2 linked regions of the Homo sapiens genome follow. The protein of the gene in region 1 purifies or fractionates together with the protein of each later gene. This does not show direct contact. Each region holds a gene or a part of one and is shown in the gene's direction. Other genes may lie near its edges.

What was found. The genes of interacting proteins can lie anywhere in the genome.
Region 2: the proteins of VPS45 (region 1) and VTI1A purify together in Homo sapiens (affinity purification with mass spectrometry; 2 studies listed by BioGRID and IntAct, with this or other methods). This does not show direct contact.

Annotation. Positions count from the first base shown.
Region 1 is NC_000001.11:150,091,753-150,098,784, forward strand, and holds part of VPS45 (vacuolar protein sorting-associated protein 45), read left to right. Parts: intron 1-184; coding exon 185-343; intron 344-549; coding exon 550-657; intron 658-1,774; coding exon 1,775-1,896; intron 1,897-7,032. UniProt on the Homo sapiens protein: May play a role in vesicle-mediated protein trafficking from the Golgi stack through the trans-Golgi network.
Region 2 is NC_000010.11:112,814,199-112,819,260, forward strand, and holds the end of VTI1A (vesicle transport through interaction with t-SNAREs homolog 1A), read left to right. Parts: intron 1-1,091; coding exon 1,092-1,185; 3' UTR 1,186-4,546; downstream 4,547-5,062. UniProt on the Homo sapiens protein: V-SNARE that mediates vesicle transport pathways through interactions with t-SNAREs on the target membrane. These interactions are proposed to mediate aspects of the specificity of vesicle trafficking and to promote fusion of the lipid bilayers.

The DNA of each region.
Region 1 (7,032 bases):
TTTAATTCTTACCTTGGACAAAAGGCATTTAATTTTCTATAGTTGAGACAGTTGCTAAATGTATGACTTATAATTGTCATAGTAGTGATGTATCACTACCATTCAATAATTATTAGATCTAAGGCATTGTACAACAGATGACTCAAGTGAAAGGGGGATAAATATAAGTTCTATCTTTCTTCAGAATATAAAAAGGCTTCTGCAGAACCCCAAAGTGACAGAGTTTGATGCTGCCCGCCTGGTGATGCTTTATGCTTTACATTATGAGCGACACAGCAGCAATAGCCTGCCAGGACTAATGATGGACCTCAGGAATAAAGGTGTTTCTGAGAAGTATCGAAAGGTAACCAGTTTCCATATTAGCCCACCAAACAGGAACCAACTCTGTTATTATATTCTTAGCTCTAACGAATGATAAATCATACTATTTTTATTTACAGAAATGTATAATTCTGTCTTTTCATTTTTGTTTCCTTAATAAAATTATTTTCTTATGAAATGGGCTTCCTGATGCCTAAGCAATCAAAATTTGCTTCTCTTTCTTAATAGCTCGTGTCTGCAGTTGTTGAATATGGTGGTAAACGAGTCAGAGGAAGTGACCTCTTCAGCCCCAAAGATGCTGTGGCTATCACCAAACAATTCCTCAAAGGACTGAAGGTATAGACATCTCCTCTATGCTCTCCTGAGTGAGAACAGTTGAAGTCCTTGAGGCTGAGAGTGAATGAATATGATCTTCAAAGTATCTTGAAGATTGCTGCTAATTTAGTACTGTGTCAGTTAAATGAAATTAAAACTGGCATCCTCTTGAAAGCTTTTTCTTTTAGTGCTTTCTGTCTTAGAGCCGTATCAACATTGGACCAAATAGCTTAGCAGGAAATAACTGGAGGTATTTCCAGGAAATAAGAAGAAAAAGACCAACAGTTCTGTTAGTCACAGATATTTTACACCATTTGTTTATAATTAAAGATTTTTTAGGTAGTTTCTCTTTGAAGGAAATTAAAGATGAAGCAAACTTTTGATCTTTTAAAAATACTAACCTGTTTTCTTAAAATACTCAAAAATTAATTCTAATCTGCTAGCCTTTCTTTTTTTTTTTTTTTTTTTTTTGAGACGGAGTCTCGCTCTGTCTCCCAGGCTGGAGTGCAGTGGCGTGATCTCGGCTCACTGCAAGCTCTGCCTCCCGGGTTTTACGCCATTCTCCTGCCTCAGCCTCTCGAGTAGCTGGGACTACAGGCATACACCACCTACACCCGGCTAATTTTTTTTTGTATTTTTAGTAGAGATGGGGTTTCACCGTGTTAGCCAGGATGGTCTCGAACTCCTGACCTTGTGATCTGCCCGCCTCGGCCTCCCAAAGTGCTGGGATTACAGGCGTGAGCCACCGCGCCCGGCAGCCTTTCTTATGTTTCCTGAAGTTTTTCTATTTTCCTGGGTATTTTCAGTCTTTTTTATACATAATCCTTTCCTTTTATTTGCTCTACCTATCATTTAACATTTCACAAAAGGGTGAGAGACAGTGAAGACATGATTAAGGATTTAAGCAATTCCATTTTTAAAAAATCCTTTACAATAACTAGCCCTAAATTACAGAGTAATTTTTATGAGATTAGAACATTTCTAGCTGATTAAAATAATTTTTAAATTTCCCACAGTTACGTAAATCTATCCCATGAAATCTCTATTGAGTGTATGTCCTTTTCTGATATGAATATTATTAATTCTTGTGTTGCCAATTTCCCAAAAATGACATAAGAACCATTTTCCCCTGTTTTAGGGAGTAGAAAATGTATATACACAGCATCAACCTTTCCTACATGAAACCCTGGATCATCTCATCAAAGGAAGGCTTAAGGAAAACCTATATCCTTATTTAGGCCCCAGCACACTCAGAGACAGGTAAGCTAACAAAGATATTAATAATAAAAGCCAGAAATACTGAACAAACAGAAAATTTAGAGTAATGTTAAGGACTAAAGCTGAGGTTATAGCATTCTGCTGCTCCTTTCTTCTGTTAAGATTCTTTTGGTTTTACATATGTCAGCATTAGATATGAATTCCCCTGCTAAGTCTGAAACATTTATTTCTTTTGTACTAAAGAAACAAGTGTTTTGGAGAGCCTCAAATCCTTCTGTATTTCAGTATCAGACCAGTTTACTTATGCCATTTAAGGTTCTGTTCGATGGCATCTGGCATTTGGTGTTTCAAACATTGAGGCCAAAAATAGGCTTGCTGCTTGATTGCCATCCAGAGCAGGTTGTTACTATTTTTGGTGAGGACTGGACTTTGCCAAATGTTGCCAGCACACAAACTGAGAGACCTAATTAATAAAGGCCATTTGTTACACAGGAGCAAAGGATGGCTTTCTTTTTGAGTATTAACTAAAGGAAGCAATAATTGTCATCTTAATCCAGTGGTTAATTTTTAATAAAAACAAAACTTGTCCAGAACAACTTATTTAGGCCAACCTGAAATTTTAAATACTGTATACATAAATTCTACCTAGTTAAAAATTATATATTTTTTTTGTTGGAACACATGTTATCTAAGGGGCTAACATATATACTTGAATCCTATTGGATAGATTAATGTGAAAATTTTACTGTTGACATAATTCTTCTATTATTTCAGTTAATAAACATCTAAGAGCCTTGGAAGTATAGTGTTTTATAAACATAATGAGATTCTGAATGAGAAAAATGTTTTGAGATACATAGGTGATTCTTTTATGTGATAAAGTGTATTTTTTCACTTTGTCCTTTAAAAAATTTTTTTCTGTAATTTGGTACAGAACAGAAAAAAAAATCATCTTTTAAAAGTCCAAGGTTGAGATGCAGAACATTTGGTGTTAAATTCAGAGAGTACACTCATTCAGATAAAATGTTTAAAGACCTTGGGATCAAGATTCAGAAATGTCAGCTAAGTGGGAAGAATGAACGCCAGCCCAAAGTTATGCACCTATCTGAGAGGCTTTTTAAAAAACAACTATTCTTGAGCTTTTGCATTAATGTGATAAATAAAAACATTTATTTGCTTATGAATTTTTATAAGAATTACTGAACAAGGAATTATTTATTACCAAAGGGAAACCACAGGCCACCGGAAGAATATACTGTATATGATCAGTACACAGCAGGAAACCTTTCTAATTTACATAATTCATTCCCACACAAAGCTCAAAATTATATTCCTTGAACAAAATGCACATTTATCAGTTGTCAACATCTGTTACCATTTGTCACTATAACCTAAGTATGCATATAGTTAATAATTCAGTTGCTTTGTCCTTTTACACAACAGATGTTGATTGAATGCTTTCAGTATGTTAAGAGCTGTTGTAGATGCTGGCGATATAGAAGTGACAGGAAAGACAAGGTACCCGCCCTCAAAGAACTTACATAGAGACAATGAGTAAACAAGTAAACAAATGAAGAATATAATTTTAATAAGTGCTATCCAGGAAATAAATAGGGTGATGAGCTTCAAAGTAATTGTAGGGGTGGGGAGGACTACTTTAGATGGAGAGAGAACCTCTCTGAGAGGTGATATTTAAGATGAGCTTTGAGTCATAAGAAAGAACCAGACCAGACACGGTGGCTCACGCCTGTAATCCCAACACTTTGGGCGGCCAAAGCGGGAGGATCACCTGAGGTCAGTAGTTTGAACCAGGCTGGCCAACATGGCAAAACCCTGTCTCTACTAAAACTACAAAAATTAGCCTGGCGTGGGTAGCAGGCGCCTGTAATCCCAGCTACTCAGGAGGCTGAGGTAGAAGAATCGCTTGAACCTGGGAGGCGGAGGTTGCAGTGAGCTGAAATTTGCACCGTTGCACTCGAGCCTGGGCAACAGAGTGAGACCCCATCTCAAAAAAAAAAAAGCAATCACACTATGATTAGGAGAGAAAGCATCCAAAGCAGAGGGAAACACCAGAGCAAAGGTCTTGAAGAAAGAGAGAATTTGGCAAGTTAATGGAACAGAAGGGAGCCCTGCTTGGCTGGAGCATAGTGAATAAGGAGGAAATAAGAGGTTGAAAGATAGGTAGGGTTGGATCACATCGGTTCTCGAAGACCCTAGTAAAGAGATTTTTTTTTAATGTCATAGGAAGCCATTGAAGAGTTAAGCATATGAGTAACATGAACTTAATTGTGTTTTAAAAGATATTTGTGGTAAGAATGGATTATTGAAGGCAAAAATAGAAGCAGAGAGACTACTGAGGAGATGAATGCAGTAGTCCAGGTGAGAAATGGAAGTGGTTTGGGTAGGAGGCTGAGAGAGAAGCCAGAATCAATAGTCATATTTAATGGCACAGATTTATGGAACAAGGGTAAGAGAGAAGTCAAGAATAACTCTCAGGCTTTGAGGAGAAACAGAGTTTTGTTGTTCAGTTGGAGATGTCTATTAGATAACAAGTAGAAATGTCACATATTGAGAGTTGACAAAAACATTAGTAATATTAAAACCTCTGGAAATGTTGAACTGCTCCAGATTAAACATGGAAAAGGCAACTAGTTGGGGAAATGGAAACAAGAGGAGAGTGTATTGGATCATGACAAAGGTATTGGTGAATGAATTGGAGATTTGATGAGGCCAAAGAATTATTACAGAAGAGTATTAGTACAGGTAAATTGGAAGTTGAGAGGTAGTTATTGGATAAAGATATTTTGAATTCAAGATTTCATAGGGGGTTCAGATACTTGTAACGAAGAAGTTTAGATTGTAAGCATGGATGTGGGTGGTTGTAGTGGGTAAAAGAAAAGATCAGGATTGGTAAGGAGACCAGGATGTTAGATGAGTAATCCACAGTGATGTTAAAGTCACTGACAATCTTGAAAAGAGAAGGAGAAAAAGGAGGACAAATAAGCCAGAGCTAAAGTCTTCATGGAATAAAAGTGACCAGGAAAGGAGGTCAGGAGAAAACGGTGCAGCTACATTATGAGCTTCTAAGATAGTGGAAATTTTGAAGGAAGAAGGCAAAGAAATGGTTACAAAACTACAGTGGGTGTCACAGAACATACCTATACCACCTCCTGGCCATGCCTAACAGAAGGAATACTGCAAAGGACTTGAAAATACTCTTATTTACCAATTCTACTTCTAAAAGCTTACTGTATAGATATTCCTGTGCAAGTACACAAAGATACTTAAGCCAGGATGTTCACTGAAGTAATAGCAAAAAAACTAGGAACAAGCTAAATATCTATTAATAGAGGGCTGGTTACCTAAACTACAGTACAATATTACGTATTCTTTTTTTTTTAAATGACATAACTCCTCACGGGTGATATGCAAAGCTTTTTAAGATATATTAGATAGAAAAGCAGGATGTTGTAACATTTCTTTCTTTTTTTTTTTTTTTGAGACAGAGTCTTGCTCTGTCACCCAGGCTGGAGTGCAGTGGTGCCATCTCGGCTCACTGCAATCCCCGCCTCCTGGGTTCAAGATTCTCCTGCCTCAGCCTCCTGAGTAGCTGGGATTACAGGTGCATGCCACCATGCCTGGCTAATTTTTGTATTTTTAGTAGAGATGGGGTCTCACCATGTTGGTCAGGCTGGTCTCGAACTCCTGACCTCGTGATCCGCCCGCCTCACCTCGTGATCCGCCCGCCTCGGCCTCCCAAAGTGCTGGGATTGCAGGCATGAGCCACTGTGCCCAGCCATAACATTTCTTTCAGGTAAAAAAACTGTATAATCCTGGGTGCAGTGGTTTATGCCTATAATCCCAGCACTTTGGGAGGCCGAGCGGGCAGATTCTTTGAGGTCAGGAGTTTGAGACCAGCCTGGCCAACATGGTGAAACCCTGTCTCTACTAAAAATGCAAAAATTAGCCAGGCGTGGTGGCATGCACCTGTAGTCCCAGCTACTCAGGAGGCTGAGTCAGGAGAATCGCTTGAACCAGGGAGGTGGAGGTTGCAGTGAGCCGAGATTATGCCATTACACACCAGCCTGGGTGATAGAGCAAGGCTCCGTCTCAAAACAAAACAAAACAAAACAAAAAAAGTGTACATGTATATAAATATGTGCTTGACTATACATATGTATGTATATTATATATATAATATATTTTCACAAGCACATATATGTATAAATACAGTAACTCTTTTTGTTTGTTTGTTTGTTTTTTTGAGACAGGGTCTGGCTCTGTAGCCCAGACTGGAGAGTGGTGGCGTGATTTCAGCTCACTGCAGCCTCCACCTTTTGGGCTTAAGCCATCCCACCTCATTCTCCTAAGTAGCTGGGGCTACAGGCACATGCCACAGTACCTAGCTAATTTTTGCATTTTTATAGAGACAAGGTTTTGCTATGTTGCCTAGGCTTGTCTCAAACTCCTGAGCTCAAGCAATCTGCCTGCCTCAGCCTCCCAAAGTGCTTGGATTACTGGCATGAGCCACCATGCCCTGCCTACAGTAATTATTTCTGAAAGAATAATCAAGAAGTTGTTAATAGTCGTTACCTCTGGATATTGAGACAGTAGTTAGTTACATATCTATCCTTCCTATTAGTTATTGTATTAGGTATTGTAATCTTGAAGTAAGTATTATGTTTTGTTAATCTTTGGGGTTTTCACAATGTTTAACACAGTGATTTACAAATAATAGGTGTTCAATAGATGTTTGGTAAATTCTATAGGCATCTCTTCTAGTTGATATGCCAATATTTATAGTTGGAAAATTTAAACCAGAGAATAAACTTAATTGATGCTATACAAAATTTAGATTTTTGAAGTTCATAAACAACCCTTTAAAACATTCTGGCTCTGTATTCACTTGGCCACACTATCAGCTCTAGCCACTTTCTTGGCCCTGTATTATCATATTGAAAAGAGTCCTTGATTATAGTGGTATTTATTATTATTTGTCTCATCATAATAGAAATTCTAGGTTTTATTGTTGCTATAATAATAGAAAATATCAAAGGAAATGTGGCAAGAACACAACTTTGCAAAACCAGAACACTGGTGGAAATTTTTTTAGCCCTTAGCTGTTAAATTAGTGTTTAAGCTGTTTGGCAGTATAGCTATATCCACAAATTGGATTTG
Region 2 (5,062 bases), on another chromosome or scaffold:
ATCTCCCCAGCTCCTCCCCATGGAAGACCCATGTCCAGTGTTTGGTGACTGGAGTAGGGCAGCAGGCCTTTTGCTGCTTGGTATTTGGAGGAGGGTTGGATGGGGTTTGCCGTGGGGTTTTAAGCTGGACAGATAGCTGGCTAGACTGCCAGCCAGCTCATGTCTCTATTTCCGTGCAGCTCTGTGAGAGCGAGCGTGGGCACGGCTGTTTGACCTAGGTTCCCTTTGAAACTCTCAACAAAGCATTCTGATGTTCGACCTCTTTTCTCCGAATGAGGTAACAAATTATGAAACAACCTCATCAGAAGCTCTCTGCAGGCATCTGGGAGCGTGTGTCTCCACTCTGGTCCCCCTTCTAAGTTGCTGGTTCCCCATCAGCGTGCAGCCCAGCCAGAACCCAGGGAGGTAGAATCCCTGGAGGTAAAGGCCCAGCAACAGACGCACAACAGGCACCTTGAGTACATTGTATATTTCTCATTTCCATCTTTTTTGCTATGGAGCAAATGTAACGTTTCCTCCTAGCGTAACGGAGCGTGAGCCACACTGACAGATGATGGTTTCACAGCCTAAGCTGCACATTTGACACTTGTTTCTTAATCCCATCCTTTTCTTCCTTAGTCTCTGTTTTACTTTTCCCCAGGTATTTTTGTGCAGGTAAGTACATTGCTGACATGTGTTTCCTTGGAGTATTTTACTTTAACAGGAAACACTGCAAAAAATGAGGCTTGTCTCGCCTTTTAAATTAGAAAGAGAAGCTCGCAAGGGGCCCTTGATCACTTAAAGAGGCTACATGATTTTCTGAGCCTCGAAAGCCATTTGATTCGCCTTAGCTTTGCAGTAAGCATTTCTCGGAGGGCAGCGTGACAATCATGTGGAGCCTTTCGTTTCCTCGTGGATCGTTTGTAGAACCAGAAAGCTGCGTGATGTCTCTTTCGCGCGCGCACACACACACACACACACACACACACACACACGCTCCCCACCCCCACCTGCAAAGCTGCCGTTTGATTAGCCAACCTGGCCTCGGACGGCGTTTGTGGGAAGGCCTTCCACTTATCTGTGTGTGTTTTTTCTCCTTTGCTGTCTCCTAGAATCATCCAGAACCGCATCCTGCTCGTCATCCTAGGGATCATCGTGGTCATCACCATCCTGATGGCGATCACTTTTTCTGTCAGAAGACACTGATGTATCTGCTCTCCCTTGATAAACAGCAACAACAGCTTGTTCTGAGTAATTAAGACAAAATGGTCACATGAATCATTCTGTTGCGCTGACAGGCCCCAGGTGACCCTCTCTCTCCCTCACCGCCGTTGGGCTGAAGTGCAAAGAGTGTAAAAATATTTTCTATTCCTGTTTGCATGTGGGTTGGTTTCCTTTTCGAGGTTTGTCTTCACCCAGATTCGTTTTTTAGAGGGGAAGGTGAATGTTTATTTACCTTTTTGCTAATGTCATCAACTAGCCAAAATAGCCCCAGTGACACTCCTAGCCCTCTGGACGTGTCAAGGGCCGTGGTTTGGGAGAGGACATGATGAGTCAGTCACGAGAGCTTCTGTTTGTCACCCGCCTCTTGTTGCTGAAAAGCTCTTCTGTGATGTCTGAGGATAAAAATGCAGCAAAAAGCAGGGGATGGAGTCAGTGACCCCGTCCAGCAAGCCAGCCCTGTTCCTACACAGGCCTCATGAATATAGTCATCAACCTGCCTGAGTGCTTTCATTGTAAAGGTCGGTATTTAATGTCGGTTGTACAGGAAATTGACTTAGCACTTTCCCTGTTTTTCTATTGCATAATTTTTTTTTTAACCCAAAGATATTTTTTTTGCTGAGCCTGCCCAGTATTCACTGTTCACAACTTTGATTACTGGCTACAAGAAATATTTTCTTGCCTTCCCCAAATCCCATACTCCCCAGAATCTGCTGGCAAAGTGAGCCCTGGTACAGGATTTAATTGTGACCTCGTCTTCCCTGACCTGTGTAAGCATCTCTGTATCCTTTCGGTTTTAATATCTGCACTGCCAAAAGCAGTCCTCATACTTGCAAAAGGTCTGACAAGGTTCTCTCCACATACATTCCAGTATGTAAAGAGACCATGAATATTTCAGTAAGAGCAAGAACATGACTCCATCAGTGTGAAATTTCAAATGTGATTATAAATATGGGAGAGTCCTATAGGAGGGTCCACCAGAGATAAACTTCACGGAAAACGTTCCCTAACCTCCTTTAAAAGAATAGAGGATGGCAGATTGTTCCAAAAGGAATGGCTTGGGTTTTTAACTAACAAATGTTAGCAAGCCTTTCTTGAATTCACTATGTATTCAAACTTCTAATATGCTTTGTGATTTTTTTCTTTCATTTCTTTCTGTCTGAGGTAACCAGGAATTGCGTTCAAAATGAGCTCATTTGTGATCAGGCTTAAAAGTTGCCCAAGCTGAGGTCGTTTCCCCCCAGTCACAAAGCAGAATGTTTTTCTCAAGACTTCATAGGCACTTACTGGTCCGTACTATCTTTGGAATATAATTAGAAGCTTTGAATCCTTGAAAAGCAAACCTGTTCTCTTCATCAAAAATGCTAACCACCTGTGCCCGTGGATCAATATCACCTGGATGTAGTGCTTGATATTTTTCCCAACTCAGAAGAAAACCATTATGGTTTAGAGAGGAAATGCAGAATGGCAGAATCCACCAGAGAAATTGCACTTATCGAAACAGGCCAAGGCCTGCATGTGTTCGGATAAATCATTTAGTATTGTGTAAATAAAGCTGCAGCCTTTACTTCGGAGGGATGGTGTGGGATTTTGGCCGAGGGAAGCAGGACAGAGAAGGAGCAGGAAGCTATGCTAATTTTCCTGTCAGCTTAAGGGATCCGTCTCAGCAAGAATCTTGTATTCTGATAACGGAATGCTGTACGTGCTGACCACATCTAAGAACCATTAAAAAGCAAGGAAACAAACAAACAACCCTTTTCTCATTCCGACACACGAATAGTCATCGAGTATTACACCAGCCCCTCTGGTGGCTTCCTTCAAAACTGTTGATCTTAGCTAAAGTGTATAACCAGTTACCAGCTGCACTTCGCACGGCCATCCCGTCCACAATGCAGCAGACTCTTCCCAAGGCCACCTAGCAAGCAAGGTTGATCGGATCATCTAAACTGGCCGCCTCCTGAATATTTCACTGAATCCTGGCGTTCATGTTGAAGCAGACAAAATGAGAAAGGAGGAGGGCATTGCTCACCTCTCAATAGCTTTTTTCGTTCAAGTTCTATGTCTTTATCAGCTCTTGCCTGTGATTTTACCCCAATTCAACCTTGGGAGTGGGAAGAATATGAACAGATAACCCTTGGCCTAACAGCTCCATCAAACCTCCTTGAGAGCAACTACCTAGGCCAGGCTAGTGAGTGCTTTGTGAGGAAGCTGGTCAGAAGGTTCCCTCAACTCCTTCCTGGTCCTCCTGGACACTGCAGAAAAGACTTAGGGGATCCCCAGCAGAGGCCAATTGCTCTCCTTCCTTCCCTGCCCCACCAGGAAAGGAATAACGTCCACAGACTTGAAGCAGATAGTGAAGTAGATCTGTGAGAGGTTCTAGGTACTTAGTGTGTAGACTTTGACGAATATTTCTCAAGTTGGGAGCCCTTGTTAAAAATGATGTTTAAGGGAGTGGTTGGGGGGAAGATGAAGGCATGGAGGAGGAAGAAGAGAAGGAAGCCCTTGCCATATAAAATTCATGCAGACTAAACAGTTTCCCTGACAGAATAAATAAAGTGGATGCTACCCCACTCCAGAATCAAAAGCAATTTAATTAAAGTCTCTTAAGTTGTAAAGAGTTTTAAATGATCCGTGTTGAAGGCGAATGCCTGCAAATGCAGTGGGTCTGACGTCAGCTGCCGGGCCTGGGCTGGGAGGCCATTTGCTATTCTGTTTAAGGCAGGCTGGATTGTCTTATTTTGGAACCAGCTTGGTGGGGGGTTTGCTTTGCTACTGCTTCTGAGCCCTGAGCTTCAAAGGCTGAAATTAATGGTGAACAAAATTGTGCGGCTCTGGCCATCCCATGCGGGGCAAGCCCATTGAGGGTTATCATTAAGTAAAGAAATAAAGAGGGGGAAAAAAGCCTGCCTGTTCCAAAAACCTCATCAGATAATGACCTCAGTGATTGGGTTTTCATTACCAAACAGCATCCAGAGATTATCAACCCATAGAAGAAGGGAGGGGAAAAAAAAGAAAGAAAGGAAAAGCAACTGTCTTTCTCTCCCTCTCTTTCTCCTTTTTTTTTGCACATCTTTTCTTTAAAACTGTCAGATCATTTCAGTATTTCAAATCCGAGGAAAACAGCCTGCCTGCTGCTGTATTTGAAGTTGTAATGGTGTCAAAAAGTCACGACTGACTGACAGCCGTCAGTCCCAGAGGGGCTCATTAAATCATAAAAACTTGACAAGGAAATAATTGCGCATTGCCAGCAACTTGGCGCCTGTTTAGACGTTTTTATTTTCTTTCATTATTAGTCCCCACCATTACGTTCATTAACAAATTGCATTAAACAACTGTTAAGGGCTAATGATTTGTTTATCGCTTTTTTTTATTATTATTATTTAAACATTAGCTGTGTCATGTGGTACCCCAAGCAGCCTCTTGCCATCATCTGACTGAATATTTTTCCACTCCGAGCTCTGGGTACTGTTGGAATATGAAATAGATTATTCATTACTCTCCTCTTTGCCACTGATTTGGTTTCATGTAGCGTCTTCCACAGAGAAAGATGAAAACTTGTCAAAAATAGGTTATATCTTATTCGAAGGGGCAACAATAGCAGCAGGTACAGGCACACTTTAATATTTAATTAAGGTTGATGTTAACCCCTTTAAATGACTTTAGCTGTAAGTTGTATTCAAATGCAGAAGAGAAAAATAATTGTTCTTAATTTGCAACCTGTTCAGCAGGCGTTCTTCATGGAGTGAGCTGGAAATTTAGGGCAGAATTTTTAAATAATGAAATTTCCCATCGTAAATATTAATAGCAGTTTGTCTACGTAGTGGAGAATTAACTAGGAGTGATGATTTCCTCATCCCTTTGG